Homo sapiens: one gene and its partners. The gene in region 3 interacts genetically with the main gene of each other region. Each region holds a gene or a part of one and is shown on either strand. Other genes may lie near its edges.

Region 1 (3,718 bases), on a different chromosome or scaffold from region 3:
GCAAGGCTGAGGTGGGCGGATCACCTGAGGTCAGGAGTTCGAGACCAGCCTGGCCAACATGGCAAAACCCCATCTCTACTAAAAATACAAAAATTAGCTGGGCTCGGTGGTGCGCACCTGTAATCCTAGCCACTCGGGAGGCTGAGCTCGAGGTGTACTGCTTGAACCCGGGAGGCGGAGGTTGCACTGAGCCAAGATCAAGCCACTGCACTCCAGCCTGGGCGACAGAGTGAGGGTCCATCTAAACACACACACACACACACACACACACACACACACACACACACAGTTCACTGGGGGTGGGGCAAGAGGCACCACGTGCCAAAGGGTAAAATGTCAGCCAATGGTGAGTCTGGCAGGGCCAAGAGGATATGGGAATTTTTGTAATTTTCCTGTAAGTCAGAAGTTATATATACAATTATGGTATAAAAGACTTTCATTACTGAGAACAAGACAGAATTTCAGTTTCTTTTGAAACAAGTCTCAGTCCTTATGGAATCTGAGACAGCAACAGATAGCTTTCGTTTCACATAGCTGTGTCTGGAGCTCCCCACCGCAGGTGACCCGCCCGCCTCGGCCTCCCAAAGTGCTAGGATGACAGGCGTGAGGCACCGCGCGCGGCCACACTGTGTGTTTCTGTTGAGATATTTGAGAGCAGCTTCTAACGCTAAAGCTTCCTGTGTCCATGTGTCTTTTACTACCACTCAGGAGCCACCGGCGAACACCTTCTCCCTGGTCTACAGACAGAAGCCTCCGGGAAGTCCCGGAAAGCAGGGTCATCTCTTCAGTGGCAGGGACTGCCTCCAGGGCCCTGGCACAAAGTCCCTACTTCTGAATCTCAGGATGTTTTAATCAATAAAATAAGAAAGCTCCTGGCTGCCAACCTCACCAGGTCGTGAGTGAGAAGCCGGCACATCAGAAACATGCGGAGCCCTGGGCAGGCACCTCCCAGACACTGTCCATCAACTGCCCAGGCAGCAGAACCAACTCTCACACAAGTAAACGTCGGAGTCCAGGAAGCCGGGCGCGGGCAGAGGCCAAAAGGAGGAGCTGCTGGCTCTCGTGGGCTTGCTACGGGGCTGGCGGTCCGCTTGTCCTCAGCTCCAGGCTTGCTCAGCCTGCACCTTGGCTGGCGGCGTGTGGACTGAGGACGTTAACGGGGCAAGGCAACACTGGCCTACGCAGATGAAGGGGTCGGTGAGCAATGTGGCTCCTGCACCCTGCCTCTGAGGGGCCCGCTGGGTGGGAGAGTCATCACCCAGCTGACGGCATCTCCGACACTGGAAGTCGTGGCTCCTACAGACCTCACACCCCACAAACCCAAAAGGGGTGTTCTCATTAGTGGGGGAGGCGTGGGACGAGCTCCACTTCTTCCCTTGCAACCTGGAGTCCAGCGTGCAGTCTGCCCATCAAAGGTCATGATGAACATCTCCCAGGATCTGCAAGCCTGGCACCCAGGGCCTGCAGCTCGACACCTGGCAGGTGCTCAATCCACGGTGGCCGGCGCAGCCACCCTCTTCTGCCTGTTAAAGCAAAAGCCGTTTTGGATGGCAACCTCGCTTGCTGCGTGCCATTCGGGTGCCTGTGCGGTATTTATGCGTAAAGTCCATCTGCAGAGGCTTCCTCTGGCCTAGGCTGACCACAAAGAGCCCTGACCTCCTGGCAGCACCAGAGTGGGCTTCAAAAACCGGCGGCCAGCCCGGCCATTCGGGGCCAGCAGCCTCAATGGGGGCAGTTGGCAGGCGACCTTTCCCTTCCTGCTGGGCCGGGGGACCAAGCCAGGAGGAGCCTGCCTCCCCACAGACCCCACCTGGCTCTGGGCTCCGCCAGTCACACTCAGCTCCGTGCACAATCTCAAGAGGCAGAAGTCCAGGCCCAGTGGCGGCTGATGTGTGGGGAACCCTTCTCTTCTTCCAGAGCATCAGGAAGAGCCTCTAGGGACTTTCCTGCCCCTAAGACCAGGTGGGAAACCAGGACCACTTCACCCACTGCCTCAGGCCAGTGAGCCCAGCCCGCCCCTCCATAGCCTGGACTCCCTCTCCCCAGCAGGGTCAGATGCCCCCCCTCCAGCCCACGCCTGCAGGGTGTGGGGTCCACAGAACACAGGAGCGGTCCGTGAACTGGAACGCGCTGCTGTGTGCTGAAGGAGCCCCTGAATGCCCACATCCTGGGTGCTAACTGTGGTCACCCTCATCCTCTCCCTGCCAGCCCCGCCCTCCCAGGCGGACCAGTGTTCTCCTTGGCAACGCCTGGAGCCAAGCTGGAAGCTCAGCCTATAAGCATCTGTCGAATGACTGGCCTCTGCCAAAAGCCCTGTCACAGCTCTCAGGGATTCTGACATCATGACATGGTGTCACGGGGACCAGGCCTGGATGGGAAAAGGCCTCAGTTCACAGAAGACAGCACAACCTCAGATTGACGGGTCGCACCATGAACATAGCCGCCTGACCAGGAGCGCCCTCTGTGCGGGGCGGGCAGTGGAGGAGTGTGGACTCCCAGCTCCGGATCTTCCACCCCCTGGGGTGACCCCGGGCCCATCCCTCAACTCCTCTGTGCCTCAGTCTCTCTGGCAAAGCCAAGGGTTAGAGCCAAGGCTACAAGCACAGCTGGGCACGCTGCGCGCTGCTGCTAGCTCTGGGCCACTGGGGAGCTGCTGTGTGAAGGGCAAGCGCCAGGGTCCATGCTGCTGCCTTTCTAGACACCGGCCTGCTCCAGACCATTGGAGCCAAGGCGAGCCAGTCAGGAGCACATCCACCCTCAAGGCCCATTCACAGGAATCAAAGGAGCCGACACAGGACAAGCCATAAACCACAAGGAGCAGCGGCCCCCAGCGCAGGGGCAACCAGGCCAAAAGCACAGATGCTCCCAGACAGTGGCTCTCCCCCCAGCAGGACACTGGGTGATGTCTGGGAACATTTGTGGTTGTCACGACTGGGGGTACTCCTGACCCGGAGTGAATGGAGGCCAAAGGTGCTGCCCAGCACCCTGCAGTGCCCACGGTGCCCCAGAGTGATCCAGGCCAGAGTGCTGACAGAGCCCAGGAGACCTGCCTCGGAATAACTCCAAATGCACCAAGAGAGCCCCAGAAAGGCCGGCACGGCCCCATGAGGTTCCCTATCACTCCCCGCACTGCAACAGCCTCCCCCAGATCACGGCCCTCTCTGGCCTGACCAACAATCTTGCCAGGTGCCTTGTGCTCACTCTGCACAGGTACAAGTAGTCACGGCCTCTAGGGGCCCAGCCAGGAGCCCCACTCAGGATGTCTCCTTCCACAGCCACCCAATAAACCCAGAGACCTGCCATGGGCCTGGCTCTGAGCTGCATGGCCCCCGGCCACAGTCCTGGGTATCCTCGAAGCTGCCCAGAGGCGGCTTTCTCCTCTCTCCGCTGAGTCCTTCCTCCCTCTGTGACTTTCCTACAATATTTCCAGGTGTCCCTGTCTTACCATTCCCCAGTGTACCAGATAAAATCTTCCATAAACCTCTCTCTCCAGTTCCATGACCGTGTGCTGCCTTGGAAGCCAGCAGAACACAATGGCCTGGGCGCTCGAGGTGACCCCTCTGAGCCTCTGTCCTCTCCCCAGTAGGCCAGGCATGGGCCCTATCCCTGACACCTGGTCTACCACCCAGGCGCCTAGCACCCAGCGGCTACTCAACAGGATGTGGCGACCCCGGCCGCGCTGTGTCAGCTTCCCAGAATCCAAGTCAGAGGCGCTCAA
Region 2 (3,718 bases), on a different chromosome or scaffold from region 3:
GGAGTGAGCGTGATCACAGCTCACTACAATCTCAAACTCTTGGGCTCAAGTGATCCTCTATCTCAGCCTCCCGAGTAGCTAGACAGGTGCACACCACTATGCTCAGCTAATTTTTTTAATTTTTGTAGAGACAGAGTCTCTTTGTTTCCCAGGCTGGTCTCAAACTCCTAGCCTAAAGCAATCTTCCCACTTTGGCTTCCCAAAGCGCTGGGATTACAGGTGTGAGCCACCACACCCAGCCTGAGAAAAATTTACTTTTTATTTTGAGACGAGGTCTTGCTCTGTCACCCAGGCTACTAGAGTGCAGCGGGGAGCAATCCTGACTCACTGCAGCCTCAACCTCTCGGGCTCAAGTAATCCTCCCACCTCAGCCTCTTGAGTAGCTGGGACTACAGGCATGTGCCACTACACCCAGCTAATTTTTCTATTTTTTATAGAGACAGGGTTCTGCTGTCCCCCTGGCTCAAGCATTCCACCTGTCTCAGCCTCTCACAGGTGTGCACCTCGCCCTACGAAAAATTTGTGTTTTTGTTTCTATGATCAGTGTGAATCATAGAAATAATATCTGTATTATCCACTATAATAATAAAGTATTTTAAAAGCAATGCACTTGTTACAAAAACATTCCCACTGTAGAAGTTACTAAAAATGAACAATTTATCAAACATACACAGAAAAATATTAAAATGAACTTAATACCTTAAAATTTTGAACACCATCATTACCTTTGGATTGTGCATAACAATTGTCTCTCCACTTGGAAACTCTAATCTTCGGTGCCACTGATTAGTGGTTACAGCTTTTTTATATTCAGCCTATAATGGGGGAAACAACATATATTCCAACATGACAAATTTATACCACATGGAGAGAAAGTATGGAGGAAAACGGTCACTATAATGGTGATAAAAATAACAGTAATAGCAGTTCTCATTTCCTGACTGGTTAACATATTTTTTATCACCTTACACATACCATTGAAGTAATTACTCTCAATCACGCCTAAGTAACAGGATCCCCATTATATAATGAAGAAAACCAAGTTTTAGATGGTCTGTTCATTTCCTAGGGCTGCATTAACAAAGTATCACAAACAGAGTGACTTAGAAAAAAAATGTATCATCCCATAGTTCTGGAGGCTCCAAGTAGAAAATTAGGTGCCAGGAAGGCAGGCCACCGTTCCTCTGAAAGCTATAAAGAAATCCTCCTTCCCTCTTCCTAGCTTCTGGTGGTGGCTGGCAATCTCTGGCTTTCCTTGGCTTGCAGTGTAACTCCAGCCTTTGCCTCCATCATCATATGGGATTCTTTCTGTGTGTCTGTCTTCACATCACAAGTTATATTGGCTTTGGGGCCCATCCTATTCCAGTAAAACCTCACCTTAACTAATTACATCTGCAATGACCCTATTTCCAAATAAGGTCACATTCTGAGACACTGGGGATTAGTAATTCAACATATTTGGGGGATGGGGAGACACAATTCAACCCATAATAGACATTTTAAGTACTGTATACAGTTGCACAAGATGACACAACTGGGAAGCAGCAATGGGAGAACTGTAGTTCATTGCCACCCAGGACTGACTTTTTCTTTTTTTTCATGTGGGCTGGAGTAATATCACCCAGGACTTTCTGACTCCAAAATCTTCACTGTCCAACCATCTTCTTACTCTTCCTCCAGATATAGTCTTTCTTTGGTTTCTGCAGGGCACTGGATCCAAGACCCCTCAAAGATACCAAAATCCCTGGTGTTCAAGTCCTTTATATAAAATAGCATTATTTTTGCATAAAACCTACATACATCCTCCCTTATACTTTAAATCTTCTCTAGATTACTTATAATACCTCATGAAATGTAGATGTGATATCAATAGTTAAACTGTAATTTTTATTTTTTATTTTCTTGAGACAGAGTCTTGCTCTGTTGCCCAGTCTGGAGTACAGTGGTGCAATCTCTGCTCACCGCAACCTCCGCCTCCCAGGTTCAGGCGATTCTCCTGCCTCAGCCTCCCGAGTAACTGGCACTACAGGCAATGAGCCACTACATCTGGCTAATTTTTCTATTTTTAGTAGAGACAAGGTATCACCATATTGGCCACGCTGGTCTCGAACTCCTGACCTCAGATGATCCGTCCACCTCAGCCTCCCAAAGTGCTGGGATTACAGGCGTGAGCTACGGTGCCCAGCCTGTGTTATTTTTATTGTTGTGGTTTTCTAAATATTTTCAGAGTATTTGGTTGAATCTGCAGATACGGAACCTGTGGATACGGAGGGCCGATCGTACTATTCTAGTTTCTATAAAGAACAAGCGTGAGGACCTCTTGGGGAGAGATTCAACACAAAGTAAGAGGGAGCCTCTGGCATATCCACAAGTCCTTTTTTTTGTTCATTTATTTTTTTAATTGACAAGTAAAAATTGTTACAAAGTCTTTTTTTTAAAACTAGTAACAGTGAGTATTTGACAATCACGTGAAAATAGAAGTATTTCCTTCTGTTTCTTGGACAATCATTGAGTAACAGTAACAATTCCTCTTCATCAGTCTTCCGTACTTTTTTTTTTTGAGATGGAGTCTCACTCTGTCACCCAGGTTGGAGTGCAATGGCGTGATCTCAGCTCACCGCAACCTCCGCCTCCCAGGTTCAAGAGATACTCCTGCCTCAGCCTCCTGAGTAGCTGGGATTACAGGCGTGCATAACCATACCTGGCTAATTTTGTATTTTTAGTAGAGACAGGGTTTTACCACGTTGGCCAGACTGGTCTCGAAATCCTAATCTCAAGCAATCAGCCCGCCTCGGCCTCCAAAGTGCTGGGATTACAGGCGTGAGTCACCATGCCCAGCCTAGTCTTTTGTACTTCTGACCCTCCTCTTCGATTTAAAAAAAAAAAAAACTTCAAATATAATTCATAATTTCTAAAAGCAAGGCCACAAACAACAAGGATTAAAGAAAGAAAACTTTCACCACCTTAAAAATTATTTTCAGGCCACGTGTGGTGGCTCACGCATGTAATCCTAGCACTCTGGGAGGCCGAGGTGGGTGGACCACCTGAGGTCAGGAATTCGAGACCATCCTGGCCAACATGGTGAAACCCTGTCTCTACTAAAAATACAAAAATTAGCTGGGCATGGTGACAGGCGCCTGTAATCCCAGCAACTCGGAAGGCTGAGGCAGGAGAATCGCTTGAACCCAGGAGGCTGAGGTTACAGTGAGCTGAAATCACGCCACTGCACTCCACCCTGGGGGACAGTGAGATCCTGTTTAAAAAATAAATAAATAAATTATTTTCACTTCTTCATATTCCCTTTCAATCCACAGCTTTATAGTAAGTATTATCTGGTAAAGATTTCACATTTCATTGTCGAAATGGTCTTGGTTATCCTTGACATTTTGATCTTCCACAAAAAATTTAGAAGCAGCTTGCAAATTTTACCAAAAAAAAAAAAAAACCCTGATGTGAATTTTGATTGGGATTGCCTAAAATTTATCTGATAATTTGGGAAGAATTGACATCTTTTATGATAGTGCCTACATGAACATAATGTTTAGCTCCGTTTCTTTTTTTTTTTTTTTTTTCTGAGACAAGGTCTTGCTCTGTTGCCCAGGCTAAAGTGCTGTGACACGATCACAGTTCACTGCAGCCTCAAGATCCCAGGCTCAAGCAATCCTACTGCCTCTGCCTCCTGAGTAGCTAAGACCACAGGCATGGGCCACCATGCCCA
Region 3 (4,119 bases):
TTTGGTAGCACAGGCAGGATTTCATGGAGAAAGGAAACTGCTAGACAGTTGTTCTGGAAAGTAGAATCCATTCCCCCAAGTATGGGAGGGTTCTGTCCCTGAGGAGGGGTCTCAGAAAAGCAGATATGCTGATGGACTGTGGAAGGAAGCTATCTGCATAGGAAGGATGAAGACATTCTTCCTAAACCGAAAGGGATCCAAGTCCACTTTAACTTGCTCAATTACAGCTTAACCAAATTCAGCTGATCTTATAATACAAAGTCACAAATCCCATGACAATCCTGCTGCCTTCATTCTGCAGCCACTTAAGCTAAACACCTCTCAACCACCTCAAAAATCTGTTTACTCTCTGAAAATGGGATCAGGGACTTCCTCTCCTGATTACCTACCCAATATGAAAATACAATATTTATTTTCACAGATCGTATTATTTTTTAAATGGCAAAAATATTACTTCCATTCATATTTTAGAAAATTGAACCAAGATTTGGAATGACATGCTTTTAATGTGGTTCCTACAGCTTTTCTATGTAAAACGCAGGCTGGCACCGTTTCACACAGGGAAGTAGCTCAGAGAGGAGGCATGTCCACAGACCGCGTGGTGACAGGTGACTGGGGGAAGTTCGGACCTCGGGCTTCAAGTCCTGACTCATCACTAACGGGTTCTAGAGCTCTGGGCCCTTCGATCTTCATCTTGAAAATGACAGCCTGAAAGGACTTTTTACGGCCCCCTTCAGCTTTAAGCTGGTCCTGACCTAATCACATGTTTCAAGTTCTAACTGAAAATTACGAGAAGGAAATTAGGAAAGATGTATCAAAGTCCATGTTTATCCTGGATTAACTTTGTCACCATTGTGCTGCTGTGGAGGCAAACCTGTTGCATCACATGGAATACCCTATTTCTGGCTGTGCATTAGAAATACAAGAGGCAGCCGACTGGCTTTTTATATTTTCATTTTTTAAAAAAGTAAACAATAGTATCCCTCGATGATGGGAAGTTCTCAGGTTTCACCTTTATAGTCTGAAAGTACACACAGAATGCCACCTGGCAGACAAGGGCCACACAGCTGAACCCGGGGTATGCTGGCTAGCTTTACCACGCGTGAAGACTCACTTTAAAGCCACGTCCCCAATCCTTACCAGGGGGCTGATCAGTGCCGTCGCTGTTACTGGTGGGGCGATTAACCGTGTAGCGGCCAGAGAATGAGGTTTGCGTATTACCTGCCCATGTATTTATACCCACCTCGTGTGGCTTGTGGTCACCAGAGCAAGAGCATGCAAATTAAAAGCAACGAGATTTGACCTTAGATCTTACTGGACACATCTACTACTATATTGGAAACAGGAAAAGAAAGAGCTTTTGACACAGCACCTGGTGGAAGGGGCAAACCTCCATCTCCCCATACATTGCATTGTTGCAGTCTTCAGAGTTTCAAAGGCTTGCCGTTTCTCCCTGAAAAACACGGCCGGTCGGGAGGGATTTCTGGCGCGGCCCACTCACCTCTTTGATCTTTGCCCTTTTCTCGCGGATGGCGGCGTCGGCGGGCTCCCGGCTCTCCACCCCGATTGGGGGCACGAAGTCCACCGGGGGCAGGCCTCTGAACGGCGCCTTGTCACGCAGCTGGTCCTGGGCCACCTTCTTCTTCTCCAGTAGGATGTCTCTTTGGATCTCCTCGGGCAGCTTCTGCAGGGTCTCCTTGGCTTCCCTGAGAGCCCGCTCGTGGTTTTCGCGGATCCTGGCCAAGTTGTCCTCCAGGGCGGCCTCCGGGTCCCCGGGTGCCCCCTCCTCGCGGCGCCGGGCTCGCCCCTCGGCCGCGTCCTCGGCGCGCGCCCCGGGCCCGGGCTTGTGGTCGGCGGCCGGCTGCAAGGCGGGGCTGGAGTGGAACAGGACCCCGCTGAGCAGCTTGGAGGAGTCTGGCAGGAAGAAGATCGCCCCGAAGCAGAGCGTGATGAAGGCGCTGAATACCAGCAGCAGCACGAACTTCTCCGTCAGGCGGAGGGCGGCGGGGCCCGACCCCTTCCTGCCACCGCCGCCGCCGAGCCCCCCGCCCAGGACGCCGCCCGCGGGGCTGCTGAAGAGCGGCAACAGGCCCCCCACGGGCATCGCTCCCGCTGTCCAGTGGTCCGGCGCCGCGCCGCTCAGCAGCCAAACTTCGCCGCCGCTGGGAGTCCGCGGCTGCGGGGCTGGGTCCTGCGTAGCCAGGCCGCCCGACCCCCTCGGCTGGGCTGCGGATCCTCCCTGGGGGAACAACTCCGCGCCGGGTCTTCTCCCCGGGGCGGCTCCTCGGGCACACAGGCACGCGCGACAGACCGCTGGCTGCAGCCCCTGCGGGGAGAGAAACAGTAAAACGTAGTAATTACGGCGATGATAAAGTTTCCAGCGGGTCTCCGCCCTCCGACTCCTGGCGAGCCTCCAGGACCGCTCCCCTTAAGCAGAGTCCTGTCCAGTCCGGGCACCGCCCTCGCAGCCCACTCTCTGGACTTGGGGTGAAGTTATCAGGTCCCGTGGGTAGGGGAGGGGTGTCCCGCGCAGGAAGGGGTCAGGGCAGCGCGCGAGCACCTCGGGGAGGGGCAGCGCACCTCTGGGCAGGAGGGGCGCAGCGTGGGCGGGAGACTCGTCAACTTCGCCCGCTCCCCATCTCCGCGCTGAGACTGCTGCCTCTTTCCTAGGCTGGGCTGAGCGCGCTGTCCCACGGTCCCGCAGCCCCGGCGCGGCTCAGGTGGGCGAGCGCGCCGACCTGCGGGCGAATGGCAGCGAGTAGAGCAGCACGGTACACTCCGCCGCGGCCCCGCGAGCACTAATCTCACTGCCGGTCTTGGGGCGGTGGAAAGCGAGGGAGGCGACGCGGCCGGAGAGTGACGGCGCGGCCGGGCCAATCACGCGCCGCCCAGGGTCCCGCGGGGGCGGGGCCGAGGCGAGGAGGGGGATGCGCGGGGCGGGGAGTTTACGGGAAGCGCAGCCTCGGCGGGGCCCGGCCGGCGGCGGGGAGGTCGCGGGGCCGGGAGGCGCGAGGTAGGCGGGAGCCGCGGTGAGGAGGACGGTCGAACCCGTGGCTGAGGCCCAGCGCCGAGAAGCGGCAGGCAGAGTTCGGGGTCGGGGAGTTTATCCTGCGCTGGCCTCGGCAGGGGTCCCCGGGGTGGTTGATCCTCGACTGGCCCGGGAGGCGCCTGGGTCCGCGCGGGACCTCTCTGCCTCCTCCTCCGACCCGTGCGGGGCGGTCGGGGGCGCTCCCGAGGGGGTCCCGGGAAAGGCGGGGTCTGGCAGGGGGTCCTGGGCGCTGGGTCGTTCAGAAGCACGGCTTTACTCCAGTTACCCTCTTTTTATCCAAGGCCGGGGTTCCCCGGGTGCCTGGTAGCAGTGAAACCCCAAGTCCCTCGGTTAGGGGAGCCGTGACCCTGGGAGCTTTTGAGCTCTCTGGTATAACATCCTTTTACATCCTAAGAGACACAGTTCTGTGCTTGCTTAGGACTTTTTTCGTATGCGCCCTTTCTTCCCCCAAAAAACAAAAAACCGAAAAAACTTGTATGTCTCTCCCGCCCACCCGTACTTTCACTATTCATTTACCTCATAGAAGTTGGTCAAATTTTCCATTCGAAGACGAGTTTTATGCTGCGGTAGCTTCAAGCAATAAGTCGAACACTGTGTTGAAATTAAGTCTTGGATCCGACTACTTCCAGCGAAGTGAGGAGTTGGTCCAATAGAAATTATTTTCCAAAATGTGTTGTAATTCTCCTGTTGCTCCACAAATAAGGGGTTATCAGAGAGGAAAACGTTGACTGACTTCGCATTTCTGAAAGCTGGTTTGTAGTCGCCTTATTTCATCCTTACCCTTCTCTGGAAATGTGACATTAGTTCTGTTTGTGCTTAAGACAAAGGAAACAGCTGGCACCTTTCGGGAAGGTGGCTCCAGTACAGTTGTTTCCAGGTGTTAAGCTGTATGAGAAAGTAGAAAAGTAATCAGAAATCCTTACTAGTTTTCATTTAATCATTTAATTATTAATTTTAACCATCATTATTTGTCGTCTACTTGTTTTGTGTAAAATGAGTAATACACTCAAAGTTCTTGTTAATAGGAAATTATTGTTTGATAAAGCTGGCTTTATGGCTTGGTTATTTTG

The links.
Region 1: changes in MAN1A1 (region 3) and DAZAP1 together harm fitness less than expected from each alone (positive genetic interaction), as found in Homo sapiens cells (one large-scale study listed by BioGRID).
Region 2: changes in MAN1A1 (region 3) and SEC23IP together harm fitness more than expected from each alone (negative genetic interaction), as found in Homo sapiens cells (one large-scale study listed by BioGRID).

Annotation. Positions count from the first base shown.
Region 1 is NC_000019.10:1,410,560-1,414,277, reverse strand, and holds part of DAZAP1 (DAZ-associated protein 1), read right to left. Parts: intron 1-3,718. UniProt on the Homo sapiens protein: RNA-binding protein, which may be required during spermatogenesis.
Region 2 is NC_000010.11:119,906,138-119,909,855, reverse strand, and holds part of SEC23IP (SEC23-interacting protein), read right to left. Parts: intron 816-3,718; coding exon 726-815; intron 1-725. UniProt on the Homo sapiens protein: Plays a role in the organization of endoplasmic reticulum exit sites. Specifically binds to phosphatidylinositol 3-phosphate (PI(3)P), phosphatidylinositol 4-phosphate (PI(4)P) and phosphatidylinositol 5-phosphate (PI(5)P).
Region 3 is NC_000006.12:119,346,962-119,351,080, forward strand, and holds the start of MAN1A1 (mannosyl-oligosaccharide 1,2-alpha-mannosidase IA), read right to left. Parts: upstream 2,801-4,119; 5' UTR 2,581-2,800; intron 2,327-2,580; coding exon of another isoform or gene 2,105-2,326; coding exon 1,502-2,104; intron 1,496-1,501; exon of another isoform or gene 1,409-1,495; coding exon of another isoform or gene 1,373-1,408; intron 1-1,372. UniProt on the Homo sapiens protein: Involved in the maturation of Asn-linked oligosaccharides. Progressively trim alpha-1,2-linked mannose residues from Man(9)GlcNAc(2) to produce Man(5)GlcNAc(2).